Regions from separate parts of the Homo sapiens genome. Here regions 2 and 3 are each linked to region 1. Evidence: fine-mapped expression QTL. A gene starts in region 1. Each other region holds a variant in brackets. All regions are shown on one strand. Distances are from middle to middle.

Evidence for each region. PIP is the estimated chance that this variant, and not a neighbour inherited with it, causes the effect.
Region 2: its variant is the best candidate, but not a certain one, in a credible set for the expression of FANCL in whole blood (INTERVAL, PIP 0.63).
Region 3: its variant is the best candidate, but not a certain one, in a credible set for the expression of FANCL in monocytes (BLUEPRINT, PIP 0.55).

Annotation. Positions count from the first base shown.
Region 1 is chr2:58,237,293-58,245,484 of GRCh38, forward strand. It overlaps FANCL (FA complementation group L), which reads right to left and starts at 4,033. Exons shown (of 14, transcript NM_018062.4): 1 at 3,926-4,033. The coding sequence starts at 4,021. RefSeq lists a silencer at 3,631-3,680 and an enhancer at 4,221-4,380.
Region 2 is chr2:57,846,930-57,855,121 of GRCh38, forward strand. No RefSeq gene overlaps it. Among named protein-coding and RNA genes, the nearest start is that of VRK2, 200 kb to the right of the region's middle. The variant C/T (reference allele first, on the strand shown) is at 3,136.
Region 3 is chr2:57,947,836-57,956,027 of GRCh38, forward strand. It overlaps a transcript of VRK2 not described here. Among named protein-coding and RNA genes, the nearest start is that of VRK2, 95 kb to the right of the region's middle. The variant T/C (reference allele first, on the strand shown) is at 3,937.

The sequences.
Region 1 (8,192 bases):
ACTAAATTATAAATCAATAACAAAAAGATATCTAGAAAATCCTTAATATTGAGAAAGATAATCATAATTCTAAGTGAGCCATAGATCAAAGAAGAAATTAAAAGGCATTTGGAACTGAATAAAAACAAAACTACAGCACACCAAAATGTGTGTGATATAGCTAAACCAGTATTCAAAAGAAAATTTAAAGCACTAAATATCTGTACTAGAATAGAAGAAAGATCTCATATCAATAATCTTCCATCTAAAGAAATCAGGAAACTTAAGATCAGAAAACTATCATATAGAAACATAAAAATAATAGAAAAAAATTGAAGAAATTAAAGACAGGTTCTTTGAAGAAATCAGTAAAATTTATAAACCTCTATCTAGATGTATCGGGGGAAAAAATGAGACATAAATTACCTACATCAGATATGAGGATGAAAGCTATTTTTAACGTATATCCATAAATTATTTGACACTCCTACCTCTAGGAGTTGGTGCCTAATTTCCCTCCTTTTGAATATAGACTAAGAAACTTGCATCTAACACAATAAAGCAGAAGTAAATGTGTGTGACTTCAGAGACTAAGAGATTAAAGAGAATGTGCATCTTTATTGATCTCTCTGTTGTATCATACACTCAGGAGAAGCTAGCTGCCATGTGTGATAACAGTCAAGCAACACTATAAAGATCCATGTGGTGAGGAACTAAGGCCTCCTGTTAAGAGCAGTAACAAACTGAGGCCTCATGGCCAATAGCTATGTGAATGAGCAATCTTGGAAGCAAATCCTCCACCTCTAGCTTGACCAACTGGCAGCCCAGGACAGCTCTGAATGCAGCCCAACACAAATTAATAAACTTTCTTAAAACATTATGGGATTTTTTGTGATTTTTTTTTAGCTTATCAGCTATCATTAGTGTATTTTATGTGTGCCCAAGACAATTCTTCTTCTTCCAATGTGACCCAGGGAAGCCAAAAGATTGGACACCCTGTTTTAGACCATCAAAGTCTTGGCAAATATCTTGATTGCAAGATCATGAGAGATTTTGATCAAGAACTACCATCCAAGTTGTTCGCAAATTTCAAATCCACAGAAACAGTGAGACAATAATTGTTTTTGTTTTAAGCCACTAAGGTTTGAAGTAAATAGCAGCAAAAGATAACCAACATAGAGAGCATCATTACAGATCCTAAAGACATTAAAAGGATAATAAGGGATTATTGTAAATAACTTTAAGCCAATAAAATCAGAAACCTAGATGAAACTAACAAATTCCTTGAAAGACACAAACTACCAAAGCTCACTCAAAAGGAAAGAGAAAATCTGATAATAGAGACAACACCTAAAACTGATTACATATTAGGTCACAGGAAAAAGTACCAGTAAGTTCCATGGAGACTTTTTTATAAACAATACTGTCTAATTACAATACAAGAAAAATTAGAAATCAGCAACAAAATTAAAAACCAAAAAGGACCTTCCACGAGAAAATTTTTACAACCTATTAAGGTGCATAGTAAATTGACATCATATAGCTTCTAAAAATGGTGGTTATAAGGCTACATGTCAGCATCTATAGGATACTTTTAAAACACTGATGAGAGGAAATGCAAAGCCTTAAAAACTTACATACATAAAACCTGCTCACTGGCCAAATCTGGGACAATTCGAGGATCAAAATAAATAATGATTATAATCAAGTAATTTTTTTAAAAGTCCATGCATCCATTCTAATATAATTAAATAAATGAGAAAGCAGGCAATGCTACTCCTTATAATGAATTGCCACTTCATAAATATAGAAATGACAAGAGTTAGAAAATCATCATTTGGCAACCGTGATAGTAATAGTCGACTCAAGCAAAAGTCAATGGACGCTAAAACCAGAGAATGTGTGTGAAAGTTTGATGCCTCAGAGTACCTCCCCAAAAGTACTTATTAATTACAAAAGGAGACTCTGACAGATGATACCTTAACCAGGTGATCAAAGTTAACATCATTAATAATGGAACCAACCAGGTAACCTCACAAGCCTTGAGAAGGACAAAACAATCTTTCTGTAGTATCCCTGCCAAAAATGCATTAGCTGAATTTAATAGTGAGGAAATATCATCCAAACCCAAATTGAGATACATTCTACCTAACAGCCAATCTGTACTCTTTAAAAATGTCTAGCTTATAAAAAACACAAACAGACTGAGAATTGTTCCAGGTTAGACATGACAACTAAATGTAATGTGGGATCTTAACAACAGATGGTAGGGGATGGGGGTATAAAACATACAACTGTATCATAAACAAAATTTGAAATATGGACTCTATCTTAGATAATAGTATATCATTAAATATCCTGATTTTAATCACTGTACTGTGGTTATGTATGAGTGTGTCCTCGTTCTTATGAAATGTATGCTCAAGTATTTAGGGATAAAGGGGAACTACGCCTGATTTGACCTCAAATGGTTCAGGAAAATAATGTGTATACACACCCACCCACATACATATACTTAACAATGATCAGTAAAATGGAGAAAATGTAAACTGGTGAATCTAGGTAAAGGGTATACTGGAATTACTTGTACTGTATATCCTTGCTACTTTTCTGTAAATTTAAAATATATACAAAATATTTTTAGACACGTAAAATGTTTAAGATTTAAATAAACTGCTAAGGCAGGTACAAATTGGAATTCTAGCTATAGCAATGGTCATAAAAGAAACTTTCATCTAATCTCAATTCTAATGGGTGTACTTGTTTCCTAAAAGGCCTTAGCAGATATAGACATACATAACAGTATTTTGCCTAAAATTAGGTATAACATGCTTCCTGTAAAAAAAAAAAAAAAAAAGTAACTTAAAATTTTTCAACTTTTCTAAATGTTGTCTACAAGAGAATCATATTTTCAGCTAGGTAATTCAAGAAGAATACTTCTAATTGGAGAGGGAAAGGTGGATTAACTTTTTTCCATATGGAATAATGAATTTTTAACCTCTACTTTCTGTGATGGTCATATGGTAATTCCACATATACTCAAAGACTATGCGTGATGGTGGGGAAGTGGGCACAAGGTTGAGTGTAATGGTCAGAAAGGAAAAGTCTACACTCCTAACCTAAGGTATCCTGGTGCAATGTAAAGAGAAAAAAATCCAGGACTGAAATCACACAGCCTGCGTTTAAGGGATTCTGATGTGATCATCAGCAAATAACGTCTCCGGTTTCCCATACCTTGATTTCTTCAACTAGAAAATGGGAATGATGATTCTTTTAAAAATTTCTGCCTCAAAGGGCTGAGGATTAAGTGAACTATTTACCTGGAAAGCGCTTTGTAAACTTCAAAACCCTACACATGTGTTAGTATGTGTAATAAACTCCATATGAGAGGCCACTGGAATCAGCAAAGTTAATTAATTCCATTGCTGTCATGCTTCTCCTAGAAGATATTGTAACTGTGGGTGTACAGGTACATACGACTTGGCAAAGGGCCAAAATAAGGTTTTCTTCCCAAATGTTCTTTCTACAGGAAACACGAAAATAATTAGCCCAGATTCCCGAGTGAACTCATCAACATCCGTGGAGGTGGAGGGTGTTAAAATCGAGTTAAGGCAAAATTTACAAAAAAAAAATTAAAAAACAGTCAATTGCGGGACACTGAACGAAGAAGGAAGCCAAACTCGGGGAAGGGCTAGGGAGAGAGGAGGCGTGGCCCCAGCCCCGCTCCACGCCGCGCGCCTCCTCGCTCCCCATCCAGCGCGGCGACCACCGGGGTGGCGGCGACAGCGGCGCTTCTCAAACCTTTAGTCTCCCAAGAGCCGTTACGCGCCGCCCCTCTCAATCCCCACAAGTCTGGGCCCCTAACCTCCTAGCCCGTCACAGACTTCTCCGCGCAGCTACGCTGCAAGAGGCTCTCTTAGCTAGAAAGCAACCACTGGGCGGGTACCTGAGCCGAGATGAATCCCTCATACACGGTTTTCGACCGGTTCTGGGGCAGAAGCAGGGGGCACTGGCGCAACAGGCTCGCTTCCGTCACCGCCATGGCTCGAAGTCCGGAGAAACACAGAAAAGCTCTAGACCTGCTGGGTCCTGCACATGCGCAGTCCGCTGGCGCTCGGACGCCGCGGAGCGGAAACCCCAGCCTTGGCGGGAAGATCCTGGAGGATTCCGCGGGCGGAAATGAAGGTGAAGCGCAGGCCAGGCCAAGTGGCGCTCTGCGGGAGGCGACATCAGGGCTCCCCAACCGGTAGTGGGAGGGAAGATTGCCCTCAAGTCCACAGGACTGACTGACCAAGATCATTCTAGCCTCAATTGTCCCAGGAGCCCTTTCGATGATTCTGTTTTACTTTATTGAAAGACTGTTACAACTTTGGTGTTGCATTTCCTCCAGAATAAAATGACTTTTACAGCCTGGACGTTGTAGCACTCTGTCTTCTTTGCTGTTGTCCTCTCTCCCTTAACATACAGAATAATGTATTATTTTGTGTATAATTATTGTAATATAATGTATAACACATTGATTATATCATATATATTACAGTTCTGTGGCTTACTAAGTTCAATCAGATATATTTGAGGCACACACATGTATACGTATATGTGTATTGATTAGACTCAAGTCAACACTGGACTCAGTTCTGTGTACGGCACTCACAAATATATAAAGCAAAACATGAGTAAAGATTGCTGATGGACTTGAACTTAATTTTCCTCTGACAGCGCTTGCAATATGTTTTTCTAACTCAGGAATGTTATCCATCCCATCTTATTAAGAGTTGATTAAATAAGAAACCTACTAAAATATTTACCATATGATTATTTGATTTTCCAATTTTCCAATTTTCCAATGCATCACGTTTGAGCCCTACTATTTGAAAAACATCATTGTAATGTGCCAAAGGTTGAGCAAAGATTATTTCGTCCCCTACCCATCTTTATTGACCTCAAGACAGAATTTGACATCCTGAAGATTCTTAAAGTTTGACAAGAATTTGTCACAGCATTCTGGATGCTTACAGAAAAGAATGCTGGAGCAGTGGTTAGATATAAATTACATTAAAGCAGTGGTTCTCAAAACGTGATCCTAGAACCTAGCAACAGCATCACCTGGGAACTATGTAGAAATACAAGTTTTCACCGCTGATGGGGTTCAGGATATGCTACCCCAAAATATGGCCCCTTGACATTTGAGAAAACAACAAAACCTAAGATCACTCTCTGACCTTCTCCCATCCTTCTTCCCTGAGGCGGGTCATTGGATCCTCAATCCAGAGGTGCTCTTCCTATACCCACAGGAAAGAAATATCCTTATCTCTAAAGAAACGGAGACATAGAAAAGAATCTGAACAAAAAGACCTTTGACAACTTACCCCAGTTTATTACCATTAGACCATGCTTTGTCCAACCGTACTTCCCCACAACTGTCCACTGTTCCTTCTAAAAATGCACAGGTTTTCCTGTTTCTTTGGGCTTCATCTCTGAAGGCTCCCATGCCACATAAAACTTAAATAAATTTGCACGCTTTTCTCTTATTAATCTGTCTTTTCTTATAAGGGACTCAAACAGGAATCTAGCAACAGGAAAGAAAGATGTTTCTCATTCCCTACAGGCCCCTATTTCAAACCTCGGGAATCCCAAACACTGGCAATAGGGCTCAGCAGTCTGCGTTTTAACAAGCTCTCCAGGTGATTCTGATGCATGCTAAGGTTTGAGGATCTCTGCAGGGGCAGGACATAACACCTGCTTTATTTTGCAACTCGGTAATTAAGGACGGCCATGCTACATGTTTTCCTATAAGAATAAAGTAGAGGCTGTGCAAAAGTGGGATCAACACAAAGATTAAGAGAACATATAGTCCCTTACTTCAAGCACTTTATAATTTATCTGTGAATTAAGATCTTTATTGTATCCAGTATGTTAAACTTCCCCACCACCACACTTTCCCCCATGGAACTTCTACCCTTTCTTTAAAGTTCTTCTCAAGTGCTATGTCTTTTTGGAAAGCTTTTTTAATCTTCTGAAAATTATTGCTCTCCCTAATCATTTAGCATATTTCCTGCTGCATCGTAGGTGCTAATAAATTATTTACTAAATATCTTAATTTGGGTTGTTATAGCAGAATACCATAAACTGGATAGGTAATCCGCAGAAATTAATTATTTCTTAGTTATGGAGGCTGAGAAGTCCAAAATCAAGACGCAAGGACAAGATTTGGTGTCTGGTGAGGAGTCACTTCCTGGAACACAGTCTTTTGGCTGTGACCTTACATCACATTCACCTTTACTATTGATACACTGGACAGTGTGACCACTTGCCAAAAGCAGTTGGCTCCTTGATTCGGAATCCCCATAATTAGGTAACTAGACTTAAAGATTTCCAGCACGTTTATTGCTAATTTATCATCTTAGATTTTAAAGAAAAGACATCCAAGTCACTGTTATGATAGTTGAACTTGTAAATGAGCATTCCTTATCAATAAAATCTATAATTGAAGAAATCCAATGACCAAGGAACAAGGTAAGATACCATATAAAAACTTTTTAATTCAATTACTCGACTATTATCCTTAGGTGTTCAAGACTGAAAGTTGGATACTCACTACCATCATCAATTCATACGTGGTTGTGCTGGAACCATTTATATATAGCCCAGTTGAAGTCAGCCACCCCAAAATCCAAAAAAAAAAAAAACAAAAATGCTCAATATGTTTAAAGATCAGAAAGCCAAGGAACTACTTCTACCACCATCAGCATGATTTCAATTTTGGAATCACTCTGACAAACTGCACAAAGATCCTCATTAAAGTTCAAGTTCCACCAGGTATCCTAGGCAGGATTTCATTTATATACTTTGCCACAAAAATTACTACTATTTAAATGCTATTGCCTGAGGAAGAACTTTATATTCTAACACAGAAAAATATCCAAACATTTTGACAAATAAAAAGCACAAATTCCAGAATGGTATGCTTACTATTATAACATTTATATTCAAATATATAAGTAAAGTTGCTCTGTATTACTAGCAATGGTTACTTTAGGGGAGGGAGATGGGAACAAAGAATGGAGATAATGGCCCATGGAGACTTTTATCTTTTATATTTTAATTTTTTAAAGGAGAATTATTAGTCTTAAAATTAAAAATTAAAATTTAAAATGCTTATACCATTCCAATTAGCATCTGTTATCCTTATTTTATAGCCCAAATGTTTAGCCATGTCCCAAGAGTTTCTTCTCCCAGTTCCCACCAGTAATGGAAGAAGATAGGATGCCTGCCATTAACATTAATAAGATTAATAAAGGAGAGATTGTTTGAGTCTGCTGAGAAGAAAGATGAAGGAAGAGACTTGCGAAATGTGAAAATAAAGGGAAAATGAAAATTAGGGGAAAGTGAAGGAAGAATAGCCATTTAAAAGAGTTTTCAAAAAAACTGGAAAAGCAAGCCAATAATATCCTATTCTCTGTGGCACTGTGTCATAGAATGGAAAAGACAGCAGATAGTCAAGATTAAGGCATGATCAGGAGTGTAAAATGCTACCTAAAGGTTGAAAAAACTGAGAATTATAGAGAGGCCTTTGGATTTGATCACGCAAAAGCATTTATTAATTTGAAAGATCAGTTTGCTCTTGCCTGTTTTTCTATCCATGCACTAAACAGCAGTTTATAAATTGCGATGTAGTGAATAATTTTTCAGCCTTGAAAAGACCATATCCATAAGAAATAAACTACAAAGACTTAATTATGTGACCAAAGTCTGGTAGGGTGATATATGGAGAAGACAACCTGGCTCCTATAACCCTACCCCAACTCTTTTGGAGCACACTCCCTTGGTAGGTAGGTTTTACCAATAATGAGTCTAGATCCATTGCAGGTACAGAATAACAATTTCTGCTTCACTCTGGGCTGTAGACTTGAGGAGCAATGGTACCCACAACCCAACTACAGGTAAACAAAAGACCATTTAAGGGTTAAGTCTGCTAAAAGAGTTGATGGGTTACAAAGATTGGGCTGGAATCAGAAGAATATTTATGGGGTCATCATCTAAAGAAAGGATAAGAATGTAAACGGGCCGTTTAAAAGTATAGAAGAATCCAGATTATTAAACAACCCTCTTCTTAGCAAAGCACGAAGACCCTCTTCCCAAGAAACACCATCCCCACACCCAGTGAAAGCCACTGATTAGAGAGATTAACAGCTCTTTTGTACTTTTTAATA
Region 2 (8,192 bases), 390 kb before region 1:
AAAAAATGACCAACTTCAAAGACAGGTCATTTGAAATTACCCAGTCAGAGGAACAAAGTGAAAAAAGAGGAGAAAGCCAATGGGACATATGGAAACCATCCAGCAAACTAATATATGCTTTATGGACATCATAAAAGGAACAGAAAGAGAGAAAAGGGTAAAAACATATGAGGTCAGGAGTTTGAGACCAGCCTGACCAACATGGAGAAACCCCATCTCTACTAAAAATACAAAATTAGCCGGGTGTGGTGACACATGCCTGTAATCCCAGCTACTCAGGAGGCTCAGGCAGGAGAATTGTTTGAACCTGGGAGATGGAGGTTGCGGTGAGCCAAGATCATGCCATTGCGCTCCAGCCTGGGCAACAAGAGCAAAACTCCATTTCAAAAAAAAACAAACAAAAAAAAAAAACAGAAAAGAAAGAAAGAAATAATGATGGAAAATTTCCCAAATCTGCTGAGGGAAATGAATATTCAGATTTATGCAGCCCAAAGAACCACAAATAGATTAAACATAAAGGTATCTTCACTGAAACACACTATAATTAAATTATCAACAGTCAAAAATAAAGCATTCTAAAAGTAGTGGAGAAAAACAACTTGTTACATAGAAGGGAATCTCATTACACATATGCATATTTCTCAGTAGAAACTTTGCAGTTAGGAGACAATGAGATTATATATTCAAAGTACTTAAAGAAAAAAAAATTGGCACCCAAGAATACTATACCCTACACAGCTATCCTTCAGAAATGAGAGATAAAGAGTTTCTCAAACAAACAAAAGTTGAGGGAGTTCATCACCACTAGACCTGCCATATCAAAAAGTTTTTTTAAAAGTTCAAGTTGAAATGAAAGGATACTAACTAGCATGATAAAAATGTATACAAGCTTATAACTCACTATAAAGGTAAGAATTTACTTAAATTCAGAATACTATAATACTTTAAAGATGGTACACAAATCACTTTTATCTCTAGTATAAAATTAAAAGATGCAAGTATTAAGAATAATTATAGGTAGAATAATTTGTAAATAAATACATAATATGATACTATGTAAATTGTGACATCAATAACAAACATGAAAAGAGCAGTAAAAATGTATAGTTTTTCTATGCAACCAAAGATGTTATAAAATTAAAACAGACTGTTACAACTATGAGATGTTTTATTTAAACCTCATGCTAACCAAATAAAACAAACAAAAAAACACCTTTAGTAGATATACAAAAGGTAAAGGGAAATGAATCAAAGCATGTCACTGCAAAAAACAATCAAATCACAAGGAAGATAGCAACAGAGGAAGAGAAGAAGCTAAAGACAGTAAGAAAATTTTAATAAAATAGCAAGAGTAAGTCCCTCTAGCTATCAATTACTTTAAATATACTTAGAATAGAATGTTCCCAATACAAAGAAATGATAAATGTTTGAGATGATGAATATGCTAATTACCCCAATTGGATCACTATATATGAATCAAAATATCACTACATACCCCAAAAATATGTACAATTATTTTATATCAAATAGAACATTTAAAGAAGAAATAAAACACTTCTGGAAGGAATTGAGAAAAATTGGTATTATTTCTTCCTTAAATATGTGATGGAATTTAACTATGAAACTGTCAAGACCTAAAGTTTTTCTTGTAAGAAATTTTTTTACTACAAATTTACTTTCCTTAATAGATTAAAAAAACTATTCAGATAGTCTGTTTCCTCTTGAATAAATGTTGGTAGGTTGTATCCTTCAAGAAACTAATTTGTTTCACTTAATTATATCAATTTATGGGTACATATTTTTGTCACAGAATCCTTGGGGTGTCGCTTTGCCAGCAGGAAAACTCTGTGGTCAGTGGTGCCTTTGCCCACGTTTTGCTCTGGCCTGCTGGGCTTATTCCACTGACTCAGCCTGGCAGGCTGCACTTGGTTCATGCTACTGGCCTGGATCCCACACCTGCAAAGGACGAGCCAGGTGGTATGTGAGTGAGCATGGGGTCTGGCTACTGCGCACAGCCAGGCATGCCAGCTGCAGTGGGGTGGGCAGCTCCAGGCACTGGAATAGGTTTTGGCTCCCTGCAAGACTGCAGCTGGACCAGGTATACCATAACCAGCTTCTGTGTCTGACACTGGGGAATGCAGAGGTGCCCAGAAGCTTGGAGATGTGAGGAACCACAGAGCACTAAAAAGAGTGTCACACTCCTGGCTAGGGGAGCTCCTAGGTCTGGGCTCCCAAAAGGGCAGCAGCTCTTCTCTCCATCTCTCTCCTCTCCTTCTTGTCACCCTCAATGTGGCAAGCAAGGGGCATATTTCAGCTGTTTGGTTTACAGCTTTTTTAGCCCCACCATTCCCAAGTCCCTGTCCTGCATCCAAGAAGAATCAGGTGTGCAGACAAGTAGAGGGTGAGCAAGACAAAGGGGAAATTTATTGAGCAATGGAACAGCTCAAGAGGAAACTGACAGGGGCAGCTCCTCTCTGTACCCAGGGTGACCTGACAAGTGTTCAGCTCTCAGCAGAGAGGAGACCCTGGGGTGGTAGCTCGTCTCTGAGGCTGGTTGTCCCATTGTCTCCTTAAGTCTAGCTGAGTCCAGGGCTTTAGTGGGCCTCAGAGGAGAGGAAATGCGTGCTGATTGGTCTATGGGTGGCCACAGGTGGGCCCGAAAAAAGCACCACAGGCTCCCATTCTGGTCCATGGGACTGGCAGCCTGGTCCCTGGGCTTCAGGCCTTCCCAGGCTTTAGGGTGGGGCTTCACTGGGGACCCACCTCTTTCCATCCAGGAGCTTGTCTGCCTATTACTGCTGTTTATGGTACCCAGGCTATTCATGCAAAGGGGTACCTACAGGCCAGCTGCCAAGTTGCTCTCAGCCTCCTCCCAGTGCTTGTCGGTGCTCAAAATCTGGAGGGGGCTGAGGTTGCAGGGGGCTGGCATGTCAGTGCTGCCCAGAGCATGTGCACACCTGCCAGGTTGCAACAGCACCCAGGCTTGGCCTCAACTTTGCTCCAGACTTGGAGCAGGTGCCAGGAATGGGGAGAGGCCAGACAGCCAGAGGAGGCACTTTCAGGCCTGCAGGGATGGAGGGGGTTCCCACATCCCCAAAAGTGCAGAGGTGCCCAGGTCCACAGCCATGGCTTCAG[C/T]GGTTGCAGCTGCACCCGGGAGGGCAGAGCTACTGTCTGCCATGCTTGGTGGCTGCGTGCAGGTGGGTGCAACCATGATGAAGCCCTGCTTGACTAGGCTGCCCCATTGGCCATCAGAGGCTAAGGACATCAAAGCTTACTCCAGAGGGTCCAGTGTCACCAAGCCCCACTGCTGCTCTCCTGCTCCGTGGATGATGAAGCCACTGATGTGCTGTCCAAGTCACGTCTGCACCTGCTGTATCCTCCCTGGAGGAGCCTCCCTGGGCTGCTGTCCCCAAGACCCATGGTCCTGCATGGAGATGCCCTTCCCCAGGTTGTGGAAACTCTGGGGGTCTTCGTCATGGTGGTCCTGGAGAGCTTCCCTGTTCATCTATTCGCAGCCTGGGGCAGGGGCTCCAGGTCTTTGGCTGGGCCCAGGCTGGCGTCTAGGGCAGGGGTGACATCACCATGAGTTCTTCCTGTGGCCCCAGTGGTCCGGGGAGGCCCAGGGCTCCCTGTCACCCACATATGGCCCTGCCCAGGGGTGGGTGCCTCTGGGAGTGGATCATGGGCCCTGGGCCCAGCCGTCAGGAGTGTCAGGCTCGACGATCACCTCAATGCAGGGCAGATCCTGGGGATGCACTCTCCAGCGACACCGCACAGAGCTTCTTCCCGAGGTACAGGAACTTGGTGCCTTCGGGCAGGTGCTTGTGGGCTCCTGGGACGTGGTAGGGAGTGAGATGGAGGCTGCAGCAGAGGCTCCAGGCCTGGGACTGGGTCCTGCCCAGCCATGGGAGGGTGGGGGTAGTGCAGTCAGGTGCCTCAGAGATGAAGGGGCTCAGGGGACTCGTCTCTGCTGCTGCTGCTCGCACAGCTGTTCCTGCCACCTGCACCCCACTCCTCCCCATTGCAGCTGGCGTGCTGGCAGCGGCCACTTCAGAAGGCCTGCCACTGCCATCATTTTTACTTTCAGTATTCTCTTAGCATCATTTTAATATTTATGATGACTGTAGGGATGTTCTTTCTTTCCTTACTTATATTAAATTTAGTTCCTTCTCTTTGTTTCTTGGTTAGTCTGCATAGAATTTAGATGATATTATTGACCTTTTTAAAGAACACATTTTGCTTTCATTGATTTTCATTTTTTTATTCTTAATTAAATTGGTTTATTATCATTATTAAATATACATGTAATTAGATTAATTTTTCAATTAAAAGATAGAGTGGCTAAATGAATGAGTGAATAAGAAGACATTACAACTGATACCACAGAAATACAAATGATCATAAAAGACTACTCTCAACAATTATATGTCAACAAACTGAATAACCTAAAAAAAATAAATTCCTATAAATACACTGCCTAGACAGAATCATTAAAGAATAGAAAATCTGAACAAACCAATAATGAGTGAGGTGACTGAATCATTAATCAAAAACTTTCTCCTTCCTCAAAAAAAGCCCAGGACCTGATAGCTTTACCGATCAATTTTAACTAACATTTAAAGAACAACAAATACTCATCTTTCTCAAACTCTCCCAAACAACTGAAGAAGAAGGAACACTTCCAAACTCATTTTGTGAGGCCATCATTACCCTGATAGCAAAATTAGACAAGGACACTATAGTAGCAAGTAAACAAATAACCCAATTACAAAGTGGGCAAAAGACCTAAATAAGACATGTCTCAAAAGACATACAAATGGTCAAAAGATATATGCAAATCTCCTCAACATCACTGATCATCAGGGAAATGCAAATCAAAATCACAATGAGATATCACTTCACATCTCTTAGGACAGCTATTATCAAAAAGCAGAAAGATAACAAGCTTTGGTAAGAATGTGGAGAAAAGGGAACTCTTGTACACTGTTGGTGAGAATGTAAATTGATACAGCCATTATGGAAAACAATATGAAGGTTCCTCAAAACATTAAAAATAGAACTACCACACGATTCATCAATCCCATGTCTGGGTATATATCCCAATGAAATAAAGTCAGTATGCCAAAGATATATCTGCACTCCCATGTTTATTGCTGCATTATACACCATAGCCAAGCTATGGAATCAACCTGTGTCCATAAATTTTAAAAAATAAAGAAAATGTGGGGTATGTATTTGTGTGTGTGTGTATACATATGTATACAAGAGTACTTCAAAAAGTTTATGGTAAATACATATTATGAAAAAACTATGTATGGATTTCAATTTTTTTTTGCACTAAAATAAACATACGAACTTGTTATAACATGCCTGATCAGGATCTAGTTTGAGGCACTAAAAAGGATATCAGTTTGGATAAGTATTAATATAAGACAGCTTTCTGATGGTGTAGCTTGACTCAAGAAAATAACTCAGTTGCTAGAAAAGGAATGGTAATGAGGTTTCATCTCCAGGGCCAACTCTGACCACTTTCTTAGCCTAGAAAAAGAGCTGTACTCAATTATTCATGTCTGCCACAATCACAGGACAGGACAGGGAAAATAGTAGCACAAGTGTCATATACTTGTCCATGACTAACTAGAGCATGGGATGATCTACATATTCCTCATATAGTCTTCTGTAAATATAATTTATCTCATGTAGACTCATGATCAGGATTGGAGTACCCATAATGCCATATTTAATTCTCCAGTGAAAACATACAATGTTGTGATTCTCAATGCTGTGGCTCTCAATGGCTTGTTGAAGGTCGATCCAAAAGTTCCAGAGACCTACACAAGGAAGTGGTAAGTTTGAAATCTAAAAGTGAAACCTAAGCATCTAACTTGAAATTGCTTTTATTGTAACTTTGTTCTTTTCTCATTATATAACAAATATTTTCTGTGTTTAAACATTTAAAAAACAATGCAGGGAAGGATGGGAAAGGAAGAGAAAGGAAGGCAAAATACTCCAGGTTCCTCTTGTGTATTTCCTAACCTGGTTTTAGAAAAAAAGACATTTCTCCAAAAAGCCTTCATTACTTTTGTTGGAGAACGACACTAGAAACCAAGACCTGGGCTCTAGGCATGCCCATTGATACTGGTATGTGGTTTCCTATAAACCTTCTCAGCTGACAGAGCAAAAAACATGTGTCTGTATTAACCTGTGTATATAAATATAGCTATAAATTTTTAAATGTAACCATTTATATCTTTATGAAGCTATATTAAACATGAGTTTATACTAATGTCTTCAAGTGTAATCCATTACCCCATAGATTATTCTAGCTTCCTCCTCTTGCTTATATGCAGATTCCCACTCTAACAGAAACAAAGCTGTCCTTGCACCATCTGCCATCCATTTACTTAATTGCTCCATTGCAGTATACCTGCATAGCAAAATCAAAATTGTTAATCCAGACCCTGAAAAGAAGTAATTCTATTTACCAGAGTGTAGTGCTTACGTTCAGTCTCTTTCCTTTAGTCTTATAGACTCCACTTATTTCCATAAGTACTCAGGTCAACACCTTACTCCCAATCCCTTTCAGTGAGGATGTGTCATACATTTGTAATACAGCTAGATTCTTTAGACACTTTCTGCAATCTATACCTTGATCTCCCAACCTCCTAAATGTTCTTTAAATTTGCTACATCAAAATTCATTCTTTGTTCTGCAGTTCTATTGGTTTTGACAAATGTGTAATGCCTTGTATCCACCATTTCATATCATACAGAATAATTTTACTGCCATAAAAAAATCCCTTTTCACCCATTCAACCATTCCTATTTTCCTCAAATCTCTGTATCAGTTGTGATCACTGATCAGTTCTGTTTCTACGGTTTTGTCTATTCTAGAGTATCACATAATTGGAATCATTTAAGATATGTAGCCTTTTCATACTGGCTTTGTATATTTATTTACATACTTTGTATATTTATTTAATACTGGCTTACTAATATTTATTTAAGGTACCTTCATATCTTTTTAAAATGAATCAATAGCTTTTTTTTTTTTTTTTTTTTTTGGAGATGGAGTTTTGCTCTTCTCGCCCAGGCTGCACTGCAGTGGCGCGATCTTGGCTCACTGCAACATCTGCCTTCTGGGTTCAAGCAATTCTCCCGCCTCAGCCTCCCAAGTAGCTGGGATTACAGTCACCCACCACCACGCCTGGCTAATTTTTGTATTTTTAGTAGAGACGTGATTTTGCCATGTTGGCAAGGCGGGTCTCGAACTCCTGACCTCAGGTAATCTGCTCACCTTGGCCTCCCAAACTGCTGGGATTATAGGCGTGAACCACTCTGCCTGGCCAATAGCCCTTTTCTTATTGGTAAATAATATTATATTGTATGAATATACTACAGCTTATTTATGTGTTTGATAAAGATATAAAAATAAATTCCATTATTTAAAAAACTTTTATTTAAAAAATAAACATGCTGGACCTGGTAAAAAGTGTTTGGCTTTTTAAGCTCAAGGTTTAAAATAATTTAAATGCTACATGTTTTAATAATTCTAAGAATTATTTGAAGTTTCTATATATTATAAATCAAAATGCCTATAAAACTAACTGAAATGTTATTATAAATATGATTGTATTTTAAGTTACTAAAGTTCAGGTATGGTTTATTTCAGAAAATATGTCTTTACTGATCCAGAGATAACTGATATGCTCAAATGAGATGGACAGAACAAAGACCTTTAAATATTAAAGGTGTTGAAAAATATTTTTCCTTTTATGTGATACTTTAGTCTCTTGGTTTGAGGCTATGATCCTGGTGTGTTTGAACAAAGAAATAGAGAACTGGACCCACCTTAATTTAATAAAGGGTGGTTTTTATATATTTACAAATATAAAAAAAGAGGCATCAAAGAGGGACAAGACAACCCAATGGCAGTCAATATCCGCCTAAGAAGGATGTCTAAATGCGATGGAAAGAAATTCCAGTGGCCATCCAACCCCTTAGGGTCCTGGTTGGATTAGGAGATGGACCACATTCACATAGATTTAGCAAAAGAAAATATTTTGAGCATAATGAGAGCAAGCTTTCCATATTTCAAAGAAACTGTTTTCTGTTATAATTATTTTGTGAATAGGTACTTTGAGACTATGTAAAATTCCATTCCTCATTCTACTTGCTCCCATTGGTTTTAGC
Region 3 (8,192 bases), 290 kb before region 1:
ATATCATTCTCGTAACATTCCTATACACTTTTCCTTTTCTCTCTCTTTCTCTTCAGCGATTTCTCCACATTTGGTGTATTTTCCTATTCTGTTAAACCAGATTTATAAATAAGCATTGCTGAGCCTCTAAGTACTCTCTCCTGAAAATGTATTCTAAGAGAAATTCTGACCCATCACAAACTCATAATTCTAGTGTCCAAAGCCATGCTCAAATGAGGTCATAGGATTTAAGTTCCCAGAACTAGACTTAAAACAATATCATTTATGCAAGGATGTTTTATATTCAAAGTGCTATACTCAAATTCTTTTTAAACTGACCAAGCTGATTTTGTCTTACTTAACCTTGTTACTACTTGGTCAAATCTCCACCACTGAAATATTATGTAAGTAAAGATCCAGCATTAGGAAAGTCTGCTTTTCACTATATAGTACTTCTAATTAACATTTTCTTTCTGTCCTCATTAACTGCTGCCATACTTATTTAGTTGACCACATCAGTGTCTACTATGCACAATACCATTTATAAGCCATTTGGGGGAAGGAAAGAAAGGCAAGTGCATTTAAATTTCCATTTCTGTTTATCTTTAAAGCTAAACAGTGGCCTTCAAGAAAATTTTTAGCTGTATCCAGTTCTGCAGGCATGTATATTTAGTTCCTGATAATATGATAGTTAATGCAAAGAAGCTTTTCTTGTTTCTGGTCCTTAGATGGCCTCTAGTTATGCCTCTCCAATGAATAAAATATCTTAACTTGTGGGTTTTAAGTGCTGGTAAAAAAAAAATTTAAGTGACACATTGATCAGAATAAGAAACATTCTTAGAAAGAAGAAAGATTTGGATACCATCTGTGTACTGGTAATAATAAAGCCCACATAAGCTTTCTTGGTAAGGTGAGGATCAAAGAGAAGTAGGAGAAAGCATAGTTGAGCACCCCAAAAATAGCCATTAATGGGAAAAGAGGGCAGAAAGAACCTGAAAAAGAGACACAAAATGAGTATTTTGAAAGGTCTGAGAAGGAAGAAATTATGGTGTCATTGAAGTTAAGCGGAAAAGGGTAGCAAGGAAGAAAGGAAAGCTGATGAAGTAAACTGCAGTAGAAAGGAACACTAAGGTAAAGCTAGAAAAGGGGCTGTGAATTTATATAGAAGGAATTCATTGATGACCCTATTGAGAATAGTAGTGGTAGAGTAAAATTATGAAAGTAAAATTGCAAAACATTAAGTTGGGAGTGGTGGTGGGGGACAGGGGGCGGGAATAGAAGTAGTTGTTTTAAACTAGACAATCAGCAAATTGAGATTTCATAGGAAGAAAAAAGGATTTGAAAATAGCTGGAAAAATTGTAGCGTCAAGAACAATTTTCTGCAAAAATAGAAGGGCTCTGATAATGATTACAAGTTATATTCAGGTATACCCTGTTTTATTGCACTTCATTTTATTAAGCTTTGCAGATATTATGTTTTTTATGAATTGAAGCTTTGTGGCAACCCTGCATCGAGTAAGTCTATCAGGGCCATTTTTCCAACAGCATGTGCTCACTTTTCTCTGTATCACATTTTGGTAACTGTCACAATACTTCAAACTTTTTTATTATCATTATGTCTGTTATGGTGATCTGTGATCAGTGATCTTTGATATCATTATTGTAATTGTTTTGGGACACCATGGACCGCGCCTACATAAAGTGGCAAACTTAATTGATAAATGTCGTGTGTGTTTTTACTGCTCCACCAACTGGCCATTCTCCTATTTCTCTCCCCCTCCTTGGACTTCTCTGTTCCTTGAGACACAATAATATTGAAATTATGCCAATTAATAACCCTACAATGGCCTCTAAGCATTCAAGTGAAAGGAAGAGTTATATGTCTGTCACTTTAAATCAAAAGCTAGAAATGATTAAGCTTAATGAGGAAGGCATTTCAAAAGCCCAGATAGATTGAAAGCTAGGCCTCTTGTACCAGTTAGCCAAGATGTGAATGCAAAGGAAAAGTTCTTGAAATAAATTTAAAAAGTACTAATCCAGTGAACACACAAATGATAAGAATGTGAAACAGCCTTATTGCTGATAAGAAGAAAGTTTGAGTGGTCTGGATAGAAAATCAAACCAACCACAACCTTCCCTTACCAAAGCCTAATCAAGAGCAATACCTGAACTCTCTTCAATTCTGTGAATGTTGAGAGAGGTGAAGAAGCTGTAGAAGAAACACCTGAACCTAGAAAAGGTTAGTTCATGAGATTTAAGGAAAGAAGCCATCTCTATAACATAAAAGTGCAAGATGAAGTAGCAAGTGCTGATGTGGAAGCTATAGCAAATTATCCAGATAAAGCTAACATTACTGATACAGGATGCTACAATAAACAATACATTTTCCATGTAGATAAAACAGCCTTCTATTGAAAAACGATGCCATCTAGGACTTCCATAGCTAAAGAGAAGAGGTCAACTCCTGGCTTCAAAACTTCAAAGTACAAGATGACTCTTGTTATGGACTAACACAGTTGGTGATTTTATGTCAGAGCCAATGCTCACTTACCATTCAGCAAATCGTGGGGCCCTTAAGAATCATGCTGAATATACTGCATCTGTGCTCTATAAATGGAACAACAGTCTGGATGTCAGCTCAAGTCTTTACAGCATGGTTCACTGAACATTTTAAGCCCACTATTGAGACCCACTGCTTAGAGAAAAAGATTCCTTTCAAAATATTACTGCTCGTTGACAATCCACCTTGTCACCCAAGAACTCAATGGAGATGTATAAGGAGATTAATGTTGTCTTCGTGCCTGCTAACACAACATTCATTCTGCTGCTCATGGATCTAGGAGTAATTTCAAATTTCAAGTCATTATTTAAGAAATACATTTTGTAAGGCTACAGCTGTCATAGATGGTGATTCTTCTGATGAATCCGGGGAAAATAAATTTAAAATCTCCGTAAAGGATCAACCATTCTAGACGCCATTAAGAACATTGGTGATCTGGCTGGGCATGGTGGCTCATGCCTGTAATCCCAGCACTTTGAGAGGCTGAGGCGGGTGGATCACGAGGTCAGGAGATCAAGACCATCCTGGCCAACATGGTGAAACTCCATCTCTACTAAAATACAAAAATTTAGTCAGGCATGGTGGTGTGTGCCTGTAGTCCCAGCTACTCAGGAGGCTGAGGCAGGGAAATCACTTGAACCCAGGAGGCAAAGGTTGCAGTGAGCCGAGATTGCAGCACTGCACTCCAGCCTGGTGACAGAGCAAGACTCCATCTCAAAAAAAAAATAATAAATAAATAAACATTGGTGATTCATGGGAGGAGTTCAAAATAAATATCAATATTAGCATGAGTTTTAGAAAAAGTTGATCCAATCCTCATTAATGACTTTGAGGTGGTTAAGACTTCAGTGGAGGAAGTAACGGCAGATGTGGTGGAAATAGCAAGAGAACTGGAATAAAATGTGGAGCCTGAAGATGTGACTGAATTGCTGCAATCTCATGATAAAACTTGAACAGATGAAGAGTTGCTTCATGCAGACGAGCAAAGAAAGTGGTTTCCTGAGATAGTATCTACTCCTAGTGAAGATACTGTGAATATTGTTGAAATGACAACAAAAGATTTAGAATATCACATAAACTTAGTTTATAAAGTAGCAGCAGGGTTTGAGAGGATTGACTCCAATTTTGAAAGAAGTTCTACTGGAGGTAAAATGCTATCAAACTGCTTCACAAGACACAGAGAAATCTTTAATGAAAAGAAGAGTCAATTGATGCTGCAAACTTTGTCTTATTTGAAGAAATTGCCACAGCCACCCTAATCTTCAGCACTATCACTGTCATCATCAGCAGTCATGTACACTGAGGCAAGACCCTCTACCAGCAAAACAATTATGACTTGCTGAAGGCTCAGATGATTGTTAGCAGTTTTAAGCAATAAAGCATTTTTTTCTGAGTTG[T/C]GGTCTCTGTTGCCCAGGATGGAGTGCAGTGGGGCAATCATAGCTCATGGCAGCCTCAGATTCCTGGGCTCAAGTGATCCTCCCACATCAGCCTCCTGAGTAGTTTAAACTACAGAAGCATACCACCATGCCCAGGTAATTTTTTTTCCTTCCTTTTTTTTTTTTTTTTTTAAGAGAGGAGGTCTCACTATTGCTCAAGCTGGTGTTGCACTACTAGCCTCAAGAGATCCTCCCGCCACAGCCTCCTGAGTAGCTGAGATTACTGATGTGAACCACTACACTCAGCAAGTATTTTAAAATTAAGACATATATATCTATATATTTATACCTTAATTTATATTTATAGAGAGAGAGAGATAGAGATAGAGATAGAGAGACATAATTCTATTGCACACTTAATAGACACAGTATAATGTAAACATAACTTTTATATGCACTGGGAAACCAAAAACTAGTGTGACTCACTTTATTTTGGTGGTCTGGAAAAAAACCCACAACACCTCCAAGGTATGCCTGTATAAAGGCAGAGAGAAATTGATAATACCCATAAGGAAAGGGAAATGCAATGTCTTCTCCTTTGAAAAGTAAAATCTTCCATATTTTTAGAGATCTTAATAGAGATTAAAGAGAAGAAAGAAAGGAGATAACAAAAACGAAAGAGGGAATTAACATTTTGGCTCGCTTCATTGTTATTTCTTCCAAACTCTGGTTTTTCCAAGTTGCTTCAGGTTCACTCAGATTCAACAAACATTTAACAAATACTCTGTGCCAGGAATTTTACTAGGTATATATCCTGAACATACATATCCTTACCTGGAAGAAACATTGTTCATAAAGCAAGGATACACACATAAAAGTGAATTAAAGTAACATTTATGTAAGTATTCTCGGATACATGATCTCATTTGCCTCTCAAAATAACCTAAGGAGATGGGGAGAGCAGGTGTTATCTTTACTACAGATGAGGAAACTGAAAATGAAAAAAAAAAAAAACAGAGGGATGTCAAATATTGCATTGTTAATTGAAACCCAACCCAAGACTTCTGGGTGAAAGCCAGGGCCATCTCCACTGAAACCTAAAGTCTGCCATGGATTTGACTGTGGATGTGCCACCCTCACTTTTTCTGACAACCTGGGCCTTGACTTAGAAGACAATGATACCTTCACCAACTTCATTTTCTGAGCTTCTCGTCAGATGTCGTGGGATGATGCATATCTGTTACATTCCCCAAGGACAGAGTGATGTGTGGCCATGATAACTTTATGCAAATTATAGCCAAGCAGCTCAGAGTTGAGAAACCTTAAAGACAAAAGGTGAGGAGGAGAAGAGGGAGCAGAATATTCCTTTTTTCAAAACTTCAGAAGATGATGATCCAGAAACTAATAGTACTACATATTTACTTTCCCATCTCTGTTGCCAGCTTTGACCTGCTTATAAAGGAGAAACAGAGATCACTTTTGCTCTTATCTGATTTGTTCGAATTGATGCTGATTACTTTTGTCTTGATTGTAATGCACTTTTTCTGCATCTAGGCTCATTTTGAGCATTTGTCATAACATATCTTTATGATGGATTTGTCACTACTTTCCTCATTGTTCCATATCTATAATACAGATTCTAACTATTGATAGGGCATTTTTCTTTTGGTTCATTAGCCTAGGAATGAACTAGGTAGTTCCAGTAATTAAAAAAGGGAAATCACTTTGCGTGTATCCCATAAAATATGAAAATTGTTATTAAATTATGAAAAAATATTAGAACTGCAGTTATACACTTAAACACTTTTCTGCTTATTAAGGTAGTTATTATAGTTCCTGTATTCATCTTTTACATACAGTCATTTACTTGTTTTCATGCTATTTCTGTGATGTAGGAAGGTTAAATATAATTCTCATTAATATATTTTTTTAAAGTGAGCTATGAAGAGTAACATGTTGATGGCCACGCTATCAGAGGAAGACATTTCCACTAAGATGCCCAGAATGAAGAGAGGGAAAAAAAAAGTCCTTCGGACTCTATATTCCATACTTTGTGCATTATAAAAAAATTAAAATGAACTGATATTATTATATTAATCTGAATTTTTATAAGTAAAAAGTTTCTTCAAAAAAACTGAATAAAATCGTATCACAAAAAAGTTAATAATAGATAATATTACTTAAGATAACAGCTTGAATTCGGTCTTTCCCTGGCAAAACTTCTTTTCCCATGTTATATTCTCCTATGCCTCTCCCATCTCACCACCATGTCCTCCCAACATTCCAGCACTTGTTTCAGTGTTTAGAACACTGTAGCCCCTTGGTAAATTCACTATTTGACTCTACATATTTATATTTCTGCCATCTTTTATTTACTTCTTACTAATTTGAGGGTTTATGAAAAGTTGATTTTCATAAACTTGCATTTAGTGGGCTTTTCAACACTAGACCAGAAATATTATGCAATACTTATTTTTACCCAAATCATCTAGAAATCTTAAGCCACTGAAGGAAGTAATCCATATGACCTCATTATGGATTTGATTCTATTCAAACTGAGTTCTATACAGTGGAAATTGTATGCAAGAAGAAGTAAATATCGCCTCATCCAACCCCTTCAGTTTAAATATGAGGAAACAAAGGTCCAGATAGGCTAACTGCCCTCCTCAAAACCATTCAGTTAGCACCAGACTCAATTCAACATGTTGTTTCTTGACTCCTACCAGTCTAATGTTTTCTTTTTTCCATTCTGCAAAAGCTGAATCTTCAATATGCAGTGTTTTTTTCTTAAGCTAAGTTACATCTTTTAGGAAATAAAAAAGTTCCTAAAACTCAATATACTAAAAGTATAGGGTTTATCTCATCTTTGCACTTAGTGTTACTAAGTTCAGAGTGTTGCTATATGATGATGTCAATAATGATACTAGATTATAGGGTCAATTTCCTAATCATAGTCTGCATACGCCCAGGCCCACCTGTAAATTTTAAAATCATGAGCCTGATGGAACTTGAAATGTATCTCAATATGTAAGGGTGAATTTATCATCACTACTCGGGAAGAAAAGGTAAGACATTGCCTACTGAGAGTGCCACCAATTTTTACACAAAAGTCAGCAACATAGAAAGATAGAATCTCACAGAAAAAAGAAGCCGTGCATTGTTTATGTCTGGAAATTATGTAGATTATTGGAGATGTTAAATTAACTTGATATTTTCCCCCAATTAAGTATAAAGCATAGATATGGTGGACTATTAAAAAATGTTTATGATATATTTACCAAAACTAGGACATGGGGTAACAGAGACAGCCTATAAGAATTGGTGAAGAACATCTTATGGCCTAGAATAGGATAGAAGATATGAGGAAAGAAATGAAGAGCATTGTTTCAACATTGTCTCCTGAACAGAGTAAACTTCAATTAATATTATTTGAACAAGATTAATTTAATACCATCATAGAGTCTTAAATACCACATAATGCAATCTTCAACACTATGAAAAATAATGATGTATATTATAAGAGGTCTGTATATCCAAATAATTTCAGAATATAAAGATGTGGCAAATGTGAAATTTCTGTAAATATATGCAAACACATATATCTAAATATATGCAAACACATAAATATATCTCTACCAACTCCCTAAATCCCACTGATAATGATAGCAAAATATAAAAATGAGAGTAGATCAGGAATTACATTAGAAAACATTAAAAAGTATTATCATCAGATTTGCTGAATTTTCAAAGATATAACACATATGGAATATAATTGACAGCAAAATCTGAAAGTGCTGAAGAACCAGAGGTAAAACAGAATAAAACCGTTAATTTTCCCACAGAATACTAAACTACAAATTATCAAAAAACATCTTCTCTATTTAAAAAAATGTGGGGCTTAACACCCAGGTGATAGGTTGATAGGTGCAGCAAACCACCACCACACACATTTACCTACAGAAAAACCCTACACATCCTGCACATGTATCCTGGAACTTAAAATAGAATTAAATTTTTTAAATAAAATTTACTGTGAGAGATTAGCAATGAGAATTTTTGCACATTAGAAATATTACGATCATAATTTAGCAAAAAGTAAAAATTTTATTTTGGGTACAAGGACAGATATCCTTTTGGTGAGTTTTTCACCATTGGGAAGATTGCATTAGATGTTATAAATAAGGGTTAACAAACAAAGAAGGTTTTCTAGAGAGATGAATTTGGTTTAATGTAGAAATAAACTTGAAAATAAAAGTGTCCTATTTTCACTGTTAATA